Regions from separate parts of the Homo sapiens genome. Here region 1 is linked to region 2. A link means that fine-mapping ties the variant in region 2 to the expression of a gene that starts in the linked region. Tissue or cell type: whole blood. Region 2 holds a variant in brackets; the other region holds the start of a gene. All regions are shown on one strand. Distances are from middle to middle.

Region 1 (8,281 bases), 84 kb after region 2:
AAGGCTTCAGCATGTACCATCTTGAATGTTAACCTTAAAAAAACAAACAGAAATGTCACTAGGTAATAACTATACTTATTAAAATTGTAAGACTAACAAAGTAGCTTAAACTAAGAAAGAAAAACTAACTTCTAGTCAAATTAAAATATTACCTACCTTAAAAAAAGTGTTTCATTTTAAGGAGAAATGGATTTTTAAATGTTAAGTAAACAAATACATTTAAAGCTCCTCTTGCAAACTAGAAGTAGACTAGAAATTAAGATTTATTTGGTAGTAGAATTAATCATTTTATTTGAAAAATACAGTAAATATCTTAAGGTATTTACTCAAAACAGCTTTAAAGAACTATTTCAGAGTCTAGGAAAGTATCAACTATAACACTAATCCAACTGAAGAAAGGCAGCCCAACAATACTAATGTGACGGTAAGAATTTCTTCTATTAACTGTATCATATACCAGGTAATTTTTGAGTGAAATTCAAATTGTGAACTGACTCACTTTTTCCTCATACATACTTTTAAAGGTTTTCAAGGCCTGCTTAAATTTAAACATGCCATTTCCTCAGTAATAAGTGGTATTAACTTTTTTGAGCCACACTATTGTTCCCAACAACCGGGCTAAGTAGGAAGCAATAGAACTTGGAAAAATCTTGAACTGAGACAACTACTACAAGAATACAGCACTCACCCAAGCTAAAGAGAAAAAAAATGAGATAAATGTGCCTATTTTTGCATATATCCCTGAACAGCTACATCAATCAAAGCTAGGCTTACAGAAGACATACACTCCTCTGTCAATGGCAATAACTACCCGGAAGAATAAGCTTGTTAGGGATGATATGACTATCACATTTTGGGAGATAGGATCTTAGCTTCAAATACTGCCATTATACTCTCAGCACAGGAGTGTGCTGAATGCTATGGGATATATAAGAAAAAGAGAATATATATTTGTACTTACATAAACATGAAAAAAAACAGAATTTGTATGGCTCAGCAGATAAAAGTTAGGTACTGCAAAGATTAATATCCATGGTCCTTCCAGCTCTAAAATTCTCCTCTCACTACTACTAAATTAAAGAGCCTCTTCACCTTCCTCCCTCTAGAATAGCTCCAAAAATTTTTTATTTCCTTTTATACCCCTCACCTCCACTCAAGGATATATACTCCTTCTCTCTAATCAAAAGACCCCAAAGTATTTCCTTTATACGTTTCCCAAGCATTCAAAACTATTCTAATCTAGAATCTAGCTCCAGAGTCAATTGTAAGCATTTTCTCTTTCACCTCTTTTCAAAGGGACTCTATAAATAGCTGGAGTCACTACCATCTGAAAATCCCACATATATTTTCCCTTCAGCGTATCTGTCTAGTATCCTGCATGGGCCATTTACCCTCATTCACCTAGGATTAGTCAAATTCTATCCTAACTTCAAAAATCAACTTTATTTGCTCCATAAAGCCTTTCAAATCACATGAATCTTCGTATTATTCATTTCGCCCTATTACACTATCTTAAAAAAGTCTTGCTTTTGAGATATCTACTCGACTAGAGTTTAAATCCTTATAAACAAGATGTATATCTTATCTACCTTTATAACTGTCACACACAAAACAGACGTTTATAATTGCCACACACAAAACAGAGGCTATTCAAAAATTATGTTCAACAGATAAATTGTAACTGAAGGAAATCTCCCATTCAATCATTGCAACAGTCACTTCTGAAGGATTTCCAAAAGGTTCCACATTTCTCCACTAGGAGCCATTCACTTCACAATAATTAGATTTAATTTAAACTTAACAACTAAATAATTGAAAGCCTTCATTTTGGAGGAAGAAACTTTGGCCTAGGGATGGTAAATGATTTAATTCATTCAATTTGCATTTACTGAACATCTATATATGACGCCCACTATATATTGGATATACAATAATTGTTAAGATATCACCACTTCATTCAAAGAACACACTGTCCGGCTATTATATTAATTATAAAGAAAGCAAAAGAAGCCAAAAAGGAGAAGGCACCTAACTGAAATCTCTCTTCATGGAACAAACCAAAGTGTGCTATCTTCCATCAGCATGGATTCCAAAAAAAACGGGTTACACAATATTTCACTTCTCATAGGAAGTAAAAAACTGACTTTTCTAGTCTTTATTCCACAAAGTTGAAAATGCAGTTGAAACGTGTTATATCACTACGTGGGGTATACTCACAGAGGAAAATAATTTAGACAAGATAAGGGTTTTATTAACCTAATCTGTGAAAAGCGGTGGCATTCCAGTAAAACGTTTTCGTTTTAGAGTTGGTAGTGATAAAACTACCAACCAAGTCATCTACTGGATATTCATTGAACTACATGAACAAATTAGGGCTGTTATGAACACATCCCAGTCATCAAGATAGTAACAACTTTTAATCCCATAAAAGGTCAACACACAAAACCCGTTTATATCCTTCCCAATTCTGAAATTTTTAATGTAATAAAGACTTAGGTCTACTAAGGCCACTTGTAAAATAGTAGTCTACCTTTTTAAATTACTTCAAAATCCTTCAATGAAACTGAAACTTGTTTTGTAGACTGTAACTATATATACTTTATTGTACACTCATGTATCATTCATTTGGTATTGATATACCTAAAATGTAAGGCTGTTACAGCAGCAATACCATCACCAGCGAACATACAATAAAAGCTGCATGCGCATACAACAGCAGGGAGCGTATTTCAATCCTGTATAAACATTAGGTTCAACAAAATGAATACACAAATATGTACATATACGATGATAGTGCTGTATGCAACTAAGAAACATCCTAAAACACTATAACCTAGAGTTATTTGTTAGGCAAATATGGTATCAGGTCGTTTCATTTTAAGTTCTCCATTTCCGAGTGGAAAACCGTGAAATCGTACTACCTCATCTATGAGCAATTTATTGACATGTATAGCATTCATAGCATAGCATTCACTGTAGTATTTCTCTCCTAATTCATTGCAGTATTTCACAAATCGTTTCTCAAACTCAAAAGTCCCAGTTTTGCAGGCATAAAGGCCCTACGAATACAGCCTATGACAATGAAGGCCTGCCAATCTTCACAAAGAGGGCAGGTTATTATTAACATCACCATCTTTTGTGAAAGCGTGCCCGGCCCTGAAGAACCACCTTCGATTTTGCACAAGGTGGTGGCCGCGCCTGTGCGACAATCAGACCTGGTTCATTCCAGCCGCCTTCGTCTAGGTTCGCCTGGTTCTGAAGTCTTCCGGGACGACCTCAAACCCCCACAGTGACCAGGATGCCGACAAAGATTCCCTCGGGAATGGCACGAGTCTTGGGGAAGAGCTAAGCAGACCCTAAGGGCCCAGGCCGGGCCGGACGCCAAGGCGAGGCCCGGGACGCCCTTGGAGGTTAATCCTCTAGATACTAAGGGCTGCGGGGCGCTTGGGGGCGGCACTGAGGTAGGGCGTGGGAGAAGACCGGGGTGACCTTTCCTCCGGGGGTTCCCAGGTCCGAGACGGTCCTTAAAGGACCTCAGAAGGATACGACAACCATCCCATGAGGCCCCACGGGAACCAGCTACTCACCCAGGGGCAGAAACAGCAAGAGCAAGTGCCCTCAGCCGGCCTCACACAGGAAGGAAACGCAACCTGGGAGAGAACGCTTCCGGCGGGAGGCGCGGCGCACTCCCTCCCACGGAGCATGCGCGACCCGCGGTCGCCGGCGCGGAGGGGGCGTGCTCCCAGGCTTAGAAACAGTGAGGGAGAGCAAATTCGCGCACCTGATGTCTGCTTAAGCTACCTGCTAGACTGAGACTTTCTGCGAAGCCGGCGTGTCTGCGAGCAGCACTCGCTAAGGCTCTGCGTTTAACAGACACTACCTTTGGGAAGGCGCTTATCACAAAAAGTCCCTGCCCTTCTCGCGGGCTCGGGGCGCAACCCTGACAAATCGGGCAGCCTTCTTGAGAGTGCAGAAATGCTCTGCGTACCCAGCAAATACATTCTCTCCTTCCCACCACTCTGTGCAAACCCTCACGCCGCGGCTTTGTGTCTGTACTTTAGCCAAAACGCAGAAGCTTATGGCCACCCTCCACTCCTCACCCCTCATCCCTCACCACCTGCCTTTCAATTCTCGGGTGAGCTCACCCTTCTCCCCCATCTCTGTGCTGACAAACACCTCGGGGTGGCGCCTGACAATCTTTCCGCGAAAAGATTTAGCAGCCCACGCCACCAGACTCGGTAGTTAGGACGGAATAGGGCATCTGGTAACAGATTTTGCATTTTGGTGATTTCCCTTTTTCTTTCACCCCTTTTCCTTTCCAGAACGAGCGACGTGACACAAGAGGTCCCAAGGGAGCAAACCTGAAAGCCAGAGCCTCCTGAATACACAAACTGCCGGTGGGCCAGATGACATTAGACACTCCTGAGATACGAGAAGCATCACTTCCTTCAGACAGAGTCGGTGAGACTATGATGTAATGAGAGTTCTCCCTGTGTTCCTCAGGAAGGCAGCTTGTGCCTTTCTACTTGAGGCATCATCTTTGATGGCTAAAGAATTCTGCAGCTTGGCCAGCGCGGTGGCTTACGCCTGTAATCCCAACACTTTGGGAGGCCGAAGCGAGAGGATCACTTGAGGTCAGGAATTCGAGACCAGCCTGGACAACATAATGAGAAATCGTCTCTACAAAAAAAAAAAAAAAAAAAAAAAAAAAACCACCTAAAAATTAGCTGGATTTGGTGGCGCATGTCTGTAGTCCCAGCTACTTGGGAGGCTGAGGTGGGAGAATCGCTTGAGCGTGGGAGATCACGGCTGCAGTGATCAAGCCACTCCACTCCAGCCTGGGCGACAGAGCAAGCCCCTGTCTCAATAATAATAACAATTTTGCAGCCTGATTGTTAACGAATGTTACTAGTTACAAACTTGTAATAATGTGGTGAAGATAATACCTAGTTAATGTCTGCTGGGGTGGGGCAATAAGCTTCTATGTGCTTTACATGCATAACCTAAATATCTCCCCCAAAATCCTCTAAAATAGCTATCATTTTCTCCGTTTTTACAAATGAGCAAATTTTAAAGCTTAAACCTTAGAGAAACTTTTCTAAGTTCATATACTTGGGAAATAAAGGCAACAATTTCATTGGAACATAGGTCTGTCTAATTCATACCTTGTACTTTACGTTTTCTCTTTGAGATGGTAATTTAATACCAGCTAAACTTTAAAATCTAGTTGAAAGTAAGACCATGAAATGCCAAAATCACAAGGCTTTAAAGGATGGGATGAAAGGGATGCATGAATGTTGAAAACTATGATTAAGTTCATGGACAGGAATCAGAATGGAATTGAATACACCCGTGCCTGTTTAGTATTTAAGGCTTTATATACGTGCATGCCTACATTCCTAATTTAAAAAAAAAATGGATGTGAAGCTAGGTTTGGGATTACTAGACTATTTAGAGAGATAGACCTTTGAGAAGAACGGAAAGATTATGAGACGAGGACAATGTTCATTAAAAACAAACAACAACAACAACAACAAAAAACAGAGGCTATCAGTGCTCAGCAGACTTTCAAGAGACTCTCCACTGGGTCCTTGGATGATCCCAAGCTGAATCATTGCTTGGGAGGCTCATGGACACATGGTTTGGCAGGGCTAAAAGGGGGAGGGTCACTAAAGGCAAGAAACAGGTTTTGTGCCCCAATAGGGTAATTATATCCACTGGTAAGGAAAATGAGCTGAGAAATTCAAGATAGTAATGGATTTTCATTCATTTACTGAGTGAAATTGGTTCAACTAAGAGCCTCACCTGCCCTCTTCTAAGGACCAGGGTGACCAGCCTACCCAGTTTCAGTTTGCATGAGACTAAAAGGTTTGCTGGGATATAAAACTGGCTGACAAAGTCTCAGGCAAATCATGAGTCACTCTACTAGAGACATCCTAAATGAATCCTACAATGAAATGGAGTTCCCAGTATGGTTACATCTAGTCTCAATTCATCTGCCTAATATTTGAGGGATGATTGCACAGGAAGGGAAACTGTTGAATAAAGTCACGAGGCTGACCATAAAGAGTCTACAAGCTCGAAAAGTGCTACACCTCACTCCCTTTCCAGTGGTTCAGCCACTGGAAACCAAATGCCTACACCTATATGTTTTGGACCTAATATTTTCATTTAGCAAATCCGTAAGAAACCTTCCATGTCTGGGCCTAAGACATCAAGTACATTCATTTTCAGCAATCATCAAATCAATGAGATTCTTCCAGAATACAGCAGAGTGAACATATGCTTTTCATTCCAGGATAGCTTTATATAATCCCTGGCAACACAAAATACCATATTTGGCCCACAGTAGGGGCTCAATAAATAATTCAATATATATAATATTAATCAGGAAATTAGAGCAGACTGTAGACTTTCTGGGCCTTTGCTCTTTGTTAGAATCAAGATATTAAAAAGAATTATTACTTTATTCTAGAAAGTTTTTGGGTTTTGTGTGTGTGTGTTTTCTGTATCAGTAACTCTTAAAATAGTTATGGCAGTTCTCCTCCAAGGTGCTGAATTTTCCACTTTTGTTATTAAATGGAGTGTAGCTAGTTTGCTCTGCAATCAAGGTTAATGCACTAGACACCTGGTGGGAAGAAAGGATTCCTTAAATTAGGTGTTCTTGGCTGGGCGCAGTGGCTCACGCTTGTAATCCCAGCACTTTGGGAGGCCGAGGCAGGTGGATCACCTGAGGTGAGGAGTTCAAGACCAGCCTGGCCAACATGGTGAAACCTTGTTTCTACTAAAAAAAAATACAAAAATTAGCTGGGTGTGGTGGCGGGCACCTGTAATCCCAGTTACTTGGGAGGCTGAGGCAGGAGAATCACTTGAATCCAGGAGGCAGAGGTTGCAGTGAGCCAAGATCATGCCACTGCACTCCAGCCTGGACAACAGAGTGAGATTCCATCTCAAAAAAAAAAATTAGGTGTTCTCAAATTTCACTGTATATAGATTAACTTGGACAACTTGGCAAAATGCAGATTCCTGGCTCCCAGTCTTCAGAGACTCCCGTTCAACTACTGTAGGTTTTGGCCTAGAAATCTGCATTTTACAGTAAGCATCTGGGCTCTCCGCCATGTGAGGATGCAGGAAGGTGTCTGTCTGCAAGCCAGGAAGGATACCCTCACCAGACAGAGTATATGCCAGTATATTGGATTTCCCACCCTCCAGAACTGGGAGAAATAAATTTCTGTTGTTTAAGCCTATCAGTAAATCAGTAAACAAACATCTGAGCTGATTGGGATATAGGTAGTTTTGGACTCTATTTTGAGAAATTCTGCCCTAGTGAATGAAGACTGTAGATGTATTTTTGCAAAAATCTCTACTACCTTAGCCTAAAAGGCCTATCTGGTCAGCTGAACCATTAACCCAGCTGGAATACATCAAGAAATCAAGGCAAGGAAGCCTCATGATGAGATTCAGGATAGAACGCCTTTGGAAGGAAAAACAAATCTGAAATCTTTGAATAAGTAAACACAGTAAACCTGACTCTATTCATTGCTCATTAGAAGTAATTCACTTGACAATGATTTAGAAAGAATAGAACTTCAACAAATAGGTAAAATTATATAACAGTAATTATGCCAGTATAATTCACTTGGTTACCTTTGTTCTTTTAAAAATATCATAAAAGGATAATTTCAATCATTATTTTTTAATTTTTTAAATCATGTCTTCTGAATCATATGAACCATTATTTTGACAAGGTAAATTAAGTAGAATGGATGGAGAAAGAAAAGTAAAGCAAGAATATGAAGCTATACCTGAAGCTGTACTTGAAGCTCCAATAGAAAGATAATATAGAACACAATGGAGTACTATTCAGCCATTTAAAAAAATGAGATCCTGTCATTTGCAACAACATGGACAGAACTGTAGGACATTATGTTGAGTGAAATAAGCCAGGCACAGAAAGACAAACTTTGCATGTTCTCACTCATTTGTGGGAGCTAAAAATTAAAACAGTTGAACTCATGGAGATAGAGGGTAGAATGATGGTTATCAGAGGCTGGGAAGAATAGTGGTGGGGGGTAGGAGGGAAGTGAGAATGGTAATGGGTACAAAAATACAGTTAGATAGAAAAAATAAGATCTAGTATTTGACAACACAGCAAGGTGACTACAGTCAACAGTAATTTATTGTGCATTTTTAAATAACTAAAAGAGTATAATTGGAATGTCTGTAACAAAGAAATGATAAATGCTTGAGGTAATGGATACCTCATTTACCCTGATGTGAT
Region 2 (8,000 bases):
AAGCCATCTCCATAACATAAAAGTACAAGGTGATGCAGCAAGTGCTGATGTAGGAGCTGCAGCAAGTTACCCAGAAGATCTAGCTAAGATCATTGATGTAGGTGGCTACACTAACAACAGATTTTCAGTGTAGAAGAAACAGCCTTCTATTGGAAGAAGATGCCACCTAGGATTTTCAGAGCTAAAGAAGAGAAGTCAATGCCTGGCTTCAAAGCTTCAAAGGACAGGCTAACTCTCCTGTTAGGAGCTAGTATAGCTGGTGACTTTAAGTTGAAGCCAGTGCTCATTGGCCATTCTGAAAATCCTAGGGTCCTTAAGGATTATGCTGAATTTATTCTTCCTGTGCTCTATAAATGGAAAAACAAAGCCTGGATGATAGCACATCTGTTTACAGCGTGGTTTACTGAATATTTTAAGCCCACTATTGAGACCGACTGCTCAAAAAAAGATTCATTTCAAAATATCACTGCTAATTGACAGTGCACCTAGTTACCCAAGAACTCTGAGGAAGATGTATAAGGAGATTAATTTGTTTTCATGCATAACACCATCCATTCTGCAGCCCACGGATCAAAGAGTAATTTCAACTTTCAGGTCTTATTGTTTAAGAAATACATTTTGTAAGGGTATAGCTGCTCTAGATGGTGATTCCTCAGATGAATGTGGGCAAAGTAAACTGAAAACCTTCTGGAAGGGATTCACCATTCTGGATGCCATCAAGAACATTTGCAATTCGTGGGAAGAGGTTAAATATCAACACTAATGGGAGTTTGGAAGAAGTTGATTTCATCCTTCATGGATGACTTTGAGGGGTTCAAGACTTCAGTAGAGGAAGTAACTGCAGACGTGGTGGAAATAGCAAGAGAACTAGAATTAGAAGTGGAGCCTGAAGAAGTAACTGAATTGTTGCAATCTCATGATAGAATTTGAAAGGATGAGGAGTTGCTTCCTATGAATGAGCAAATAAATCGTTTTTTTGAGATAGAATCTACTCCTGGTGAAGATTCTCTTGAAATGGCAACAAAGTATTCAGAATATTATGTAAGCTTAGTTGATAAAGCAGTGGCAGCCTGTGAGAGGATTGACTCCAATTTTGAAGGAAGTTCTACCATGCGTAAAATGCTATCAAACAGCATCTCATGCTACAGAGAAATCTTTCATGAAAGAAAGAGTCAATTGATATGACCAACTTCATTGTTGTCTTATTTTAATAAATTGCCACAGCCACCCCAGACTTTAGCAACCATCACCCTGATTTGTCAGCAGCTATTAACACAAGACTCTCCACCAGGAGAATGATTACAACTCTCTGAAGGCTCAGAGGATCATTAACATTTTTAGCAAAAAGGTATTTTTAAATTAAGATAGGCTGGGCGCGGTGGCTCACCCTGTAATCCCAACACTTTGGGAGGCCGATTGTTTCAGCCCAGGAGTTTGAGATCAGCCTTGGCAACATGGCGAAACCCTCTCCCTGCTAAAAATACAAAAAATTAGCTGGGCATAGTGGTGCACACCTGTAGTACCAGCTACTCAGGAGGCTGAGGTGGGAGGATCACCTGAGCCTGGGAAGTCGAGGCTGCAGTGAGCTGTGATTGTATCAGTGCACTCCAACCTGGGCTATAGGAGTGAGACCCTTTCTCAAAAAAAAAAAAAGTTTAGATAATATTACATTTTAAAGACATAATGCCATTGCACACTTCATAGACTACAGTATAGTGTAAACATAACTTTTAAAATGCACTGGGAAACCAAAAAATTTGTGTGACTCCGTTTATTACAATATTCACTTTATTGCAGTAGTCTGGAACTGAACCTGCAATGTTTCTCAGGTATGCCTGTATTTTTTTCATCATGCCTTACAATGCATGCTGGCAGATGGAACTCAGAATTTTAGAATTTCTTAGAAGCCAAGGAGAATGGTGGCATGACTTGTGTCTTTGACAATATTTTCAGTGATTCTATACCTTTAGGTTATTAGGGGGACTCGATAAACATTCCCAGGGAGCTAATGGTGAGAAATGAGCCTTGGATAACCAGAGAGAGAAAGCCACTCACCCTGCAGACATTTTGTGCAAAAGTGAGAGAGATTGATGAAGATTGTTGAAGATTGTCGCATGTACCAAACACACAAGTTTTATTGGCAAAATAATTCTTTTTGCTGTGTCCTTTTTTAGCACTCTGAAACCCACAAAAACACTTTAACACAGGTTTTTAGAACCCCACAGCTTCCAAAAGTAATTACTTCTGCGGGAATCCTGGGCCTTATTCTATTTCCATGTGGCACTGGGAGTGATATTTGCAAGGAAAATAGAGTCACTAGGAAATGGTCTGCCTTTGTTACAGAGCTTATCTCCAACGTCATTCTTGACCTTCCATTCAAGGCATCCAGCCCTCTCTTTGGCATCACTAAGTATAGAACCGTGTGACATGCGCTCAAATGAAATCATCAGGAGGAGCAGGTGAAACTTGTAAAACTAATGCTTGCTGGGGCTTTGTTGCCTTTCGTCCATGGCTCCCAGAGATTTGTCAAGTAGTAATTATTTTTCACAATGCTCTTGGTGAGGAAAGTAAGAATCATTACTCCTGTTTTGCACTCTACATTTTCTTGTACAAACCAAGAGAACAGAATATGACTTCTCAATGAAAGATGGGAATGAGAGTTTATAGCCTTTAGCTCCACAATGAAAACCATATGGTTAGTTATATCAACAGAATCACCTGAGGAGCTTTACAAATCACCCATGACTGGATCCCATCCTCACAGATTCTCATTTAATTGGCTTTGAGTCAGATCTGATTATTGAGGGGTGGGTAGTTAAAGCTCCCCGTGATTCTAATGGGCTGTGAAGGTTGAGAACTATTGAGTTAGATAATTGTTTGGAGCTATTTTCTTTAGGGCCCCACCTGCATATATCCTGCAAGTACCTCAAACTCAACATGTTTAACCTCCCCCCAAGCCTGTTCCCCCTACTATGTCTCCTATCTTAGTGACAGCTTCACCATCCAAATGGTGGCCTGTGACCAAAACCTGGATGCCATTCTTGCTTCTCTCTTCTCCCCTTGTCCATTCAGTCACCACGTCCTGCCAAATGTAGCTTTCAGTTATTGCTTGAATTCATTCACTCCTCTTCTATTCCATCTTGGGTCAGGACATTTCAATTCTTTCCTCTCTCTTGTCTTACTCCCCCATAATCTCCCACTCTTTAGCTAGAGTGAATTATTCAACTTTTCTTTGGAAACCCCTTTATTAAGATACAATTTACCGCAAAGCCTCTTGCCACCACCAGCCAACACACTCCCTCGTCCAGTCCTTCCAGAGCTGGTCATTCGATCATGCGCTCTCTGACTTTTGCACATACTCATCCTTCAACCTGGCACACTGTTTCTTCCACCTCTGCCTCCGGACCTTATTACCTCCTTTCAGAAGTCAGCACTGACTCCTATGACACATGAGCATAACTGAGTGCCCCTTCTTTGTCCTCCCAGAGTAATTTG[G/T]ACTTGCCCCTTTCATACCTGTGACAGGTGAAGCTGAAATGTCAATATGGGGGCCACTGATGAGAGGCAGTGGGTGCAGTGATGAGAAGAATCTGGTTTGCAGGAGTCTGAGATTTGGGTCTTGGCTTTGGTAAGAAAGCTCTGTGCACTTGAACTCTGCCACTTCCCCTCTGTAAAACTGCCTTCTCTTCTGAAAATGAGGACATTAAATCTACATTACCTCCAGGTTCCTTAAAGCCCCAGATTCTGTGACTATGACTGATAGCACAGAAATGAATGTGTGTGTATATATATATATATATATATATATATATATATATATATATATGTATGTATTCTCCTCTTGTAGGCATTAGTTTTTCTTCTCTTTGATTCTGTTCTCTGCACCCTTTCATCATGACCTTATCTTGCTGAATCCACCATTTCCTTCCTTCTTTCTGGTTTCTTTCCCTTCTCTCTGCTCCCTTTTTGCATTCTTTTTCACCTTCCCACCCTCAGCTGCTCCTCCCTTTCCAATTAGTGCATTCCCTCATCTCCAGATTGTTTCTTTTGAGTCTTCCTCTCCTTGGCCTCTTTGAGCCTATTTATCATAGCTTTCTTAGTCTTTACGCTAGTGGTTGAGCTTATCCTCTCCTTTATGCATTCTTGTGTGTAATTTTGAGCCCAATTCCCTATTTGCTACTTCACTGGGCTCCTGAAGCCTGCTCCCCATTCCTTTTGGCGCATCTAGTTCTGCAAATCCTCTAGCTGTGGCCCCCCTGCTGTCTTTGGCAGGAAGCTTGGAAGGGGGTGGGGACTTCTAGGCCACAAAGCCCTGGGAAATTAAGCAGAGCCTCTGGATCTCCCTTCCTGACAGCTGGACACAGTTCTGGCGATAATTGGACCACCTTAGGGATAGAGATGCCCCTTGTCCCTCCCCATCCCAGAAATGCCAAACACATAGTTTTAACATCTCTCTTCAAACAGACAGGTTTTTAGGCTGGATGGTGGATGAATTCGGTTTGATGCCCCCTTCACCAATAGATAGAGCAATATACGGTGGACCCCTAGTGTCCAGAATAAATTACTGCATCCTCAGGGGTTTGGAGGTCAGTTCTCAAAATTGTGCTGTGTCCAACTCTAAGCAATGAGGAGAAAGTAGATGTATAGGTATGGATATTTGAAAATGTTCTTGTTGAATTATCTGACTGAGCACAGAGTTTAGAAAAGAGGCCATGAAAACACAACCGAAAACCTTGCATAATTGCCTTCTGTCTACCGCAGGGTTTCTCAGCCTCAGCACTGTTGACATATTGGACTAGATAATTCTTCACTGAGAGGGCAGTTCTGTGCAATGTAGGATATTTAGTAGCATCCCTAGCCTCTGTTCACCAGATGCCAATAGCACTTCAGTCATCACAATCAAAATTATCTTCAGATATTGTCAAATGTCACCAGGAGTGACTAAATCAGCCTCTGTTTAGAGCCACTGCTCTATCCCAATCCCCCACTCCCTGAACCTCTCTGGAATGCAGGTCATGGTAAACCCCAATATCTGGCCATAATGGGGACTGTGAACCAGGTCCACCATCACTATCTTCGTGTCTTCCTACTAGGTGTTTCAAATCAGCTTTCTCTCACTCACTCTTGCCTCCCTCTTCTCTGCTAACATTTCAGGTAACCAAGTTGTATTTGGAAAGTGGTGAAAGGTACTTGGGGTTTGATTAGGGGGAGGATTGTAAAACCATTACATGTTTGACTGAGGAATGAGATTGGCTGTAAGTATTTGTGTCAGTGACTAGGAGAGACACAGCTCTGTAATTGATTATACTTCAATACCAGATGGAAAATATTTAAACTTATAGAAAAAAAACAAAGGTTGCCATGTTTTTCTTTTCTTTCTTTCTTTTTTTTTTTTTTTTTTTTTTGAGACAGAGTCTTACTCTGTTGCCCAGGCTGGAGTGCAGTGGCGAGACCCCGGCTCACTGCAACCTCCGCCTCCCAGGTTCAAGTGATTCTCCTGCCTCAACCTCCTGAGTAGCTGGGATTACAGGTGCCCGCCACCAGGCCTGGCTATTTTTTATATTTTTAGTAGAGACAGGGTTTCACCATATTGGCCAGGCTGGTCTTGAACTCCTGACTTCATGATCCACCCACCTCAGCCTCTCAAAGTACTGGGATTACAGGAGTGAGCCACCATGCCCGACCATGTTTTTCTTTTTCATTAGTTTCACCATTCTTCAACCCTGGCTTACCCCTAACATTTGTGGGGCCCAGAGCAAGAATACAAATGGAGAGCCATACATCATATTTAAAAGTTACATGTGTAACTAACAAACTGCTAAATAAAATGTGTTTGATCCTTCTACTTTGACAACTATGCCTTAATCACAAACTGGAAAGCCAGGTTCAAATATAGACTTCTGGGTTCTGCATCAGAATATGGTAGTGTGTGGAGAGTTGGCCCTTGGCCTTTCACCAACTCTCCCTTCTCCTTCTATGCTTGGCCTCTTCCTATGCTATGTGGGTCCTCTGGATTGATTTGTGGGCACCCCAGGCTGCATGGCTGAGCTCTCTCCACAACCTCTGCAGACCCTCCCTGCTTGGCCCGCCCTCAGAAGTAGGGCTGCTCTGAGTGTGTGGTCCACCCTGGAAAGACAGGTTGGGAGATGAAGCTCTCCCAGGCCTAGCAGCAAGCTCAGAGTTGATTGGGCAGGAAATTCTAGAGTTCTGGGTACCCTGATTATGATCAAAAGAGTAGGTGATGACTCTGGGTGGGTCTTCCCACCAAGGGTCTCCTTGCCTTTATGAGATAGACACAACCAAAGGGGGCCAGAGTTGGGCCATCTAATGTGTGGGACACTATGAAGATGGTTCTTCTGCAGGTCTCCAGGTGCTCTTCACACCCACCCTTTCCTGAAGTCACATTTTCAGCTGAGACTGGGAATAGAAAAGTGATTGCTTCTAACCTCAGTGAAATAAATCCTCAGTGAGTTAAAAAACGGTGGTTCCTCTAAAAAAAAAAATTAAGGTAAAAAACAGAACATAAAAATTATCATCTTAACCTTCTTGTAAGTGTGCAACTCAGTAATGTTAAGCATATTCACATTGTTGTGAACCAAATCTCCAGAACTTTGTCATCTTGCAAAATGGAAACTCTACACCCATTAAACAACTCCCGCGGTCAGGCATGGTGGCTCACGCTTGTAATCCCAACACTTTGGAAGGCCGAAGTTGGAGGATTGCTTGAGCCCAGGAGTTGAGACCTATCTGGTTATCATAGTGAGAACCTGTCTCTACAAAAAAAAAATTTTAAAATTAGCCAGGTGTGGTGGCATGCTTGTAGTCCCAGCTACTTGGGAGGTTGAGGTGGGAGAACTGCATAAGCCCCGGAGGTAGAGGCTGCAGTGAGCTACTGCATGCCAGCCTGGTGACAGAGTGAGACCTGCCTCAAACAAAAACAAAAACAACTCCCCTCTTCTTCTTTCCTCCAGCTCCTGGTAACTACCATCCTTCCTCCAGCCCGTGGTAACTACCATTGCACTCTCTGTTTCTATGAATTCGACTAGAATTCATAGAAATTTAGATACCTCATATAAGTGGAATCATGTAATATTTGCTTTTTTGTGACTGGCTTATTTCACTTAGCCTAATGTCCTCAAGGTTCAGCCATGTTATAGCATGTGACAGGATTTCCTTCCTTTTAAAGGATGAATGATCTTCCCTTGTATGTGTATACCACATTTTATTTACCCATTCATCCATCTATGCACATTTGGGTTGCTTCCACCTCTTGGCTATTTGAATAGTGCTGCTGTGAACATGAGGATACAAATATTTCTTCAAGACTCTTTCATTTCCTTTGAATATACACCCATAAGTAGGATTGCTGGATCATATGGTAGTTCCATTTTTAATTCACTGAGGAACCTCCATACTGTTTTCCATAGTGGTTGCACCTTTTACAATCCCACTAACAGTGTACAAGGGTTCCAATTTTTATTTTTCTACATCCTCACCAACACCAACACTTGTTTTTTTTCTTTTCTGTGTGTGTGTATGTGTGTGTGTGTGTGTGTGTGTCTCTGTCACCCAGGCTGAAGTGCAGTGACGCAATCATGGCTCACTGCAGCCTCAACCTTCCCAGGCTCAGGTGATCCTCCCACCTCAGCCTGCTGAGTAGCTGGGACTACAGGCATGCACCACCATGCCAGATTAATTTTTATATTTTATGAAGAGATGGGGTTTTACCATGTTGCCCAGGCTGGTCTCAAACTCTGGGCTTAAGCAATCCACCCAACTTGGCTCATGCTGGGATTACAGGCGTGAGCCACTGTGCCCAGCCATTTTCTGTTTTTTAATAGTGGCCATCCTAATGGATGGGAGATGATATCTCATTGTAGTTTTGATTTGCATTTCTCATAATTAATGATGCTGAGCATCTTACATGCTTTTGGCCATTTGTAGATCATCTCAAGTTATGTCTATTCAAGTCCTTTGCCTATTTCTTAATTGGGTTAATTTTT

Evidence for each region. PIP is the estimated chance that this variant, and not a neighbour inherited with it, causes the effect.
Region 1: it holds the start of ATAD1, and the variant in region 2 is fine-mapped to the expression of ATAD1 in whole blood (TOPMed, PIP 0.93).

The regions. Positions count from the first base shown.
Region 1 is chr10:87,814,580-87,822,860 of GRCh38, forward strand. ATAD1 (ATPase family AAA domain containing 1) reads right to left here and starts at 3,647. Exons shown (of 10, transcript NM_001321967.2): 1 at 3,588-3,647; 2 at 1-33. The coding sequence starts at 20. It also overlaps the pseudogene CFL1P1. RefSeq lists a silencer at 3,745-3,794.
Region 2 is chr10:87,730,884-87,738,883 of GRCh38, forward strand. All of the region lies in intron 9 of PAPSS2 (3'-phosphoadenosine 5'-phosphosulfate synthase 2), which reads left to right. Among named protein-coding and RNA genes, the nearest start is that of PAPSS2, 75 kb to the left of the region's middle. The variant G/T (reference allele first, on the strand shown) is at 3,496.